Regions from separate parts of the Homo sapiens genome. Here region 1 is linked to region 2. The links come from fine-mapping of genetic effects on plasma protein levels. A gene starts in region 2. The other region holds a variant in brackets. All regions are shown on one strand. Distances are between the middles of the regions.

The links. PIP is the posterior inclusion probability: the model's chance that the variant is causal. Protein levels are from antibody-based Olink assays in UK Biobank. Linkage for the fine-mapping came from a reference panel and not from the study's own genotypes, which makes the PIPs less certain.
Region 1: its variant is fine-mapped to the plasma level of the GCNT1 protein (UK Biobank, PIP above 0.99). The variant lies in the coding sequence of GCNT1. If it changes the protein, the assay may bind it differently, which can mimic a change of level.

What each region holds. Positions count from the first base shown.
Region 1 is chr9:76,501,086-76,503,996 of GRCh38, forward strand. GCNT1 (glucosaminyl (N-acetyl) transferase 1) reads left to right here. Exons shown (of 4, transcript NM_001490.5): 4 at 1,154-2,911. The coding sequence starts at 1,297. The coding sequence ends at 2,583. Among named protein-coding and RNA genes, the nearest start is that of GCNT1, 43 kb to the left of the region's middle. The variant C/G (reference allele first, on the strand shown) is at 1,769.
Region 2 is chr9:76,457,551-76,460,461 of GRCh38, forward strand. It overlaps GCNT1 (glucosaminyl (N-acetyl) transferase 1), which reads left to right and starts at 1,632. Exons shown (of 4, transcript NM_001490.5): 1 at 1,632-1,755; 2 at 2,510-2,627. RefSeq lists a silencer at 1,417-1,956 and an enhancer at 2,567-2,676.

The sequences.
Region 1 (2,911 bases), 44 kb after region 2:
AACATTATTTTATATTAATGATGGTCAGTTATTCATTTTTATTTGTATTATTACTATTCACAACTCATTTCCTAATGAAATAGTTAAGTTTCTGGCATTAAAAACTCGTGTCAAATCTCTAGAAATCTTGTTATGAACAGATTTATAACGGTCAAATTGGTAGTACTTGACTTTCTTTTTTTAGAACAGCAGCGCTTATCAGCTGTAGAACCAATTGCCAAGTTATAAAATTGATTTTTGAAAACAAAGCTATTTAATGTTTGTAAGCATTTCATATAGTAAAAGTGGGTTGTGTTCCTGGAATTTGAATATAGATGAAGGTCTGTCATAAATTACAATTTGTATACACTATTGTTTTCTGCAAGACTTAGTTATTACAGTCTGTTATAACTAATGCAGAAAACGCAAGCTGTATCTCTCTTTTGGATTATGAATACTTTGTTTTCTTGTAGTTTCTGGCATGGAACTAAACTCATTGTGGGACTAACCCAACACAGTCCCAAACGGGGCTTTGTTTCATCTGAGCCTTTTCAATCCAATTTGAAAATTCTGTTGACTTGCCCTTCCTTCAAAGATTCTTAGAAGTCACAACCATTTCCAAACTTCTCCCTAAGTATGCCCCAAATCCTAAATCAGCAAAAAGCAGAATGGATCTGATCTCTTTTAGGGCTGCTGACACCAGCTAATGGACATTAAAACATGTCAGGAGGAACTTAAATTACTAACGATTTCAAGAACAAGGGGTGGTAATTCTGGCACAGTGTCAGAAACTCATCAACTATAGACTGTTCAATCATTATTGCCTAGGCGTCCAACTATGGTTTTGCACCTCAACATACCAAAGAGGTAAAATGCTTGTTGTTAGATATTCTAGTGCATCCATGTACTGGGATTTGGGGTTTGTTTTTTCTTTTGTTTTCTTTTTCAATCTGTGGTATAAATACTAGAGACTGTGGGCTTCCTGTACTACTACAATTTATCCTCTGATTCAGCCACTTTGTTTTTGTTTTAAACCTAACCTCATAGCAAAGAGGACAGTTTTTTGAGCCTGAGAAGATTTATTGTGAAAAACTCTCTCTCTCTCTCTCTCTCTGTATATATATATATATATATATATATTTATTTATATTTATAATTGCTTCTTTTATTTCAGTGCTGCTCTTCATTTCAAGATGCCGTTGCAGCTCTGATAAATGCAAACTGACAACCTTCAAGGCCACGACGGAGGGAAAATCATTGGTGCTTGGAGCATAGAAGACTGCCCTTCACAAAGGAAATCCCTGATTATTGTTTGAAATGCTGAGGACGTTGCTGCGAAGGAGACTTTTTTCTTATCCCACCAAATACTACTTTATGGTTCTTGTTTTATCCCTAATCACCTTCTCCGTTTTAAGGATTCATCAAAAGCCTGAATTTGTAAGTGTCAGACACTTGGAGCTTGCTGGGGAGAATCCTAGTAGTGATATTAATTGCACCAAAGTTTTACAGGGTGATGTAAATGAAATCCAAAAGGTAAAGCTTGAGATCCTAACAGTGAAATTTAAAAAGCGCCCTCGGTGGACACCTGACGACTATATAAACATGACCAGTGACTGTTCTTCTTTCATCAAGAGACGCAAATATATTGTAGAACCCCTTAGTAAAGAAGAGGCGGAGTTTCCAATAGCATATTCTATAGTGGTTCATCACAAGATTGAAATGCTTGACAGGCTGCTGAGGGCCATCTATATGCCTCAGAATTTCTATTGCATTCATGTGGACACAAAAT[C/G]CGAGGATTCCTATTTAGCTGCAGTGATGGGCATCGCTTCCTGTTTTAGTAATGTCTTTGTGGCCAGCCGATTGGAGAGTGTGGTTTATGCATCGTGGAGCCGGGTTCAGGCTGACCTCAACTGCATGAAGGATCTCTATGCAATGAGTGCAAACTGGAAGTACTTGATAAATCTTTGTGGTATGGATTTTCCCATTAAAACCAACCTAGAAATTGTCAGGAAGCTCAAGTTGTTAATGGGAGAAAACAACCTGGAAACGGAGAGGATGCCATCCCATAAAGAAGAAAGGTGGAAGAAGCGGTATGAGGTCGTTAATGGAAAGCTGACAAACACAGGGACTGTCAAAATGCTTCCTCCACTCGAAACACCTCTCTTTTCTGGCAGTGCCTACTTCGTGGTCAGTAGGGAGTATGTGGGGTATGTACTACAGAATGAAAAAATCCAAAAGTTGATGGAGTGGGCACAAGACACATACAGCCCTGATGAGTATCTCTGGGCCACCATCCAAAGGATTCCTGAAGTCCCGGGCTCACTCCCTGCCAGCCATAAGTATGATCTGTCTGACATGCAAGCAGTTGCCAGGTTTGTCAAGTGGCAGTACTTTGAGGGTGATGTTTCCAAGGGTGCTCCCTACCCGCCCTGCGATGGAGTCCATGTGCGCTCAGTGTGCATTTTCGGAGCTGGTGACTTGAACTGGATGCTGCGCAAACACCACTTGTTTGCCAATAAGTTTGACGTGGATGTTGACCTCTTTGCCATCCAGTGTTTGGATGAGCATTTGAGACACAAAGCTTTGGAGACATTAAAACACTGACCATTACGGGCAATTTTATGAACAAGAAGAAGGATACACAAAACGTACCCTTATCTGTTTCCCCTTCCTTGTCAGCATCGGGAAGATGGTATGAAGTCCTCTTTGGGGCAGGGACTCTAGTAGATCTTCTTGTCAGAGAAGCTGCATGGTTTCTGCAGAGCACAGTTAGCTAGAAAGGTGATAGCATTAAATGTTCATCTAGAGTTAATAGTGGGAGGAGTAAAGGTAGCCTTGAGGCCAGAGCAGGTAGCAAGGCATTGTGGAAAGAGGGGACCAGGGTGGCTGGGGAAGAGGCCGATGCATAAAGTCAGCCTGTTCAAAGTGCTCA
Region 2 (2,911 bases):
GGCTATACTTTAAACTTATGTTTAGCAATTAACATGTCAGTATTTTAACTTACAAATGACTCAGACATTTAATGAATATCTATTACTTAATTTAATATGTTCGAAATTTCAAGTCACCAAAAAAGATTTTTAAAACTATTTTTAAGTAGACAAATTTTATAAAACAAATTATTTTTAAAAGTTTATAAACTTTTATTCCATTTACATTTACCTAATCTACTTGCTCTTAACAATTATGCTTGAATTGCTCATGAAAAATTTCATGAGATATTAAACAAAGCTAGCCATTGAAGGAGTTCAGGAGTTTTTCCCAAAATCATTTCCTCTCCCCTAAATTGTCCCTCCCCAATGAAGAGGATACACAAGCTCCTAAAATCTCAGTTTTTGTTGGGGGAGGCAGAGGGAATATTAGTTTTTCTTTTCTGTGATACCCCCTACACGAAATCTGTGTACTTTTTCTCTTGTTAATCTACCTGCAGTCAATTTATTTCATAGACTTAGTTATCCAAGCCTCAGAGAGTAGAGGGGAAGTCTTTCTTCCTCTATACCATCATCTTATGTTAATTTTTGTTGACAAATCAGGCAAGTGTCAAACATATCACAGTCTAATGGCCTCTGAGTTGGATTTTTTTTTTTTTTTTTTTTTTTTTGAGATGGAGTCTCGCTCTGTTGCCCAGGCTGGAGTGCAGTGACACGATCTCGGCTCACTGCAAGCTCCGCCTCCCGGGTTCACGCCATTCTCCTGACTCAGCCTCCCGAGTAGCTGGGACTACAGGCGCCCGCCACCACGCCTGGCTAATTTTTTGTATATTTAGTAGAGACGCGGTTTCACCATGTTAGCCAGGATGGTCTCGATCTCCTGACCTGGTGATCCGCCCGCCTCGGCCTCCCAAAGTGCTGGGATTACAGGCGTGAGCCACCGCGCCCGGCCAGAATTTTTTTTAAACAACATGGAAACAAATAAGACCTCGTTCTGTTTTCTAGGAGCTAAAAATCCAACGAAAGAAGACACAGACACAATATTCCCCTTGTTACAAAGAGAACTGTGTCAACTTTTATAACTGACACAAAGATCTGTGCTATAAGGGCGGGGAAGGTTTTTTCCTACTTTCCACAGCACTGTGGATTGTTCCACAGTTTAATTTGATCTTAATTTTTATGTGGAAATACACATGAATGTAATGAGTTCTTAAATGCTAAATTTAGGAAGCAAGGTTCGTTAGGGGAGAGAAAAAAACACCTACATGGTTATCTCTAAACTTTACATATCGAGAACCTTGGAATTTAATTTTATTGTTGTTCTGTAACATATTTTCATGTTTAAAATCAGAAAAGGCAGCATTTCTCGAGTTTCCTGCTTTCGAGGAAGGGAGGCATAAAATGTTTAAAAAGACGCCGCTCACACACCTCTTAAGAATCAGAGCACAGTGAGGAAGAGGAGCGAGGAAGCACTAGGATCGCAGCGCTACTCCCAGACCACGTCAGTGCCCAGAGGGCGCCCTCGCCTGTAGGCGGGAACCGCGAGTCCGCAGCAAGTCCCCAGCCCCGAGCTCGCGCAGGTGGGCGAGGCGGGGACGTGGTGGGCGGGGCCTAGAAAGGCGGGGCCTCTGGGGGCGGCCCCGGGGCGGGCCACGCTGGTGTGAGGGCTGCAGGCGCAGCTCCGGAGCGCCTAGAGCGCGGCGCGGGGCGGGAGCTTGGTGGAGCAGGAGCGGCTGGGCATCCTCCTGAGACTCCGGGGTCAGACGCCCACTCCAGGTAACCGGCTCTCCCTCGTGTTCCCCTGCTCGGCCGCCCGGCGGTGGGGGAAGGCTGAGAAGGATGGGTGGGAGGGAGCCGGCTCTCAGCCAGTGCCCCGTGGCCCCGGGCGGGCTGGGCTCCCCCGCGGAGGAGGAAGCAGAACCGGGGTGCGCCCGGGACCGGAATGGAGCGGCGCCTCTTCCTTCCACCTTCATTTTCCGTCCGCTCAGTGGGGCTGGGACGCCGGTGCCCCGTGTCCCCTGAAAGTCACTTTCTGGCCTCTTGCCCCTGGTCCGTGTAGCTTAGATGTCGGAGGGGTTGGCTGCGGGCGTGGATAGGCAGGGAACGAACAGACTCGCTGCCATCCCATGGGTGCCAGGGGCTTAACTTCATTTAACTTCATTGAATCCTAACGCCAGCCCGGCTAAGATGCATTTTCACCCCTACTTTACTGATAAAGAGGCCAACGCTAGGATAATAAATGACTCACCCTGGAGCAAACTATTACTAATAAGAAAAGAGACGTTAGTTTAGGGGCTCCGAAGCCTCTCCTTTCCTGCTCCCTCGCTTTCCTTCTTCTCGCGGCAGTCTAGGAAACTCGCGCGCAGGGTCTATTACGAAAACAAGTGATTCGTCTTAAAAGCATTTTACCCCCTCCTAGGTTTCTCTTTCCTCTTTTTTTTAAGTATCTCAGGCAGATTCCTCCAAGTTTTGGTTATTAGGTTTTTGAAATGGAAGAAGCCCTTGCTCACTGCTTCTTTTCTCCTGGCAGCGCTTTCTGCGCAGCACAGGCACCCTCGCCTGTCACGCCTCCCTCTCCTCTTCCCGTCTCCCAGCGTGGATGAGGGCGCCTGCAGATCCCGGCTAGGGCACGGACCGCCTAGGCCGAGGTAGGTTCTGTAGGCACCTGGCATGCTGTAGATGCATATAAACGTTGCCCTGTACACCCTTTGCCTTGTTATTTCTTTCTGCAGAAAAGAGAGTCGGTTTTTTACACATAATGGGGCAAGAGGCCAATTGGGAAGATATATGGTGTTCAAAGAAAGCCGTGGTGCCTTGAGATGAGAATGCGGCCACAGCTTTTTGTGGGCTGAATTTGATGGGTGGGAGGTGAGAGACGTGGTCTGGAAGTTGTCTCTTCGTCTGGCATTCTGCCCCCCTTCCAGAGCTGTTC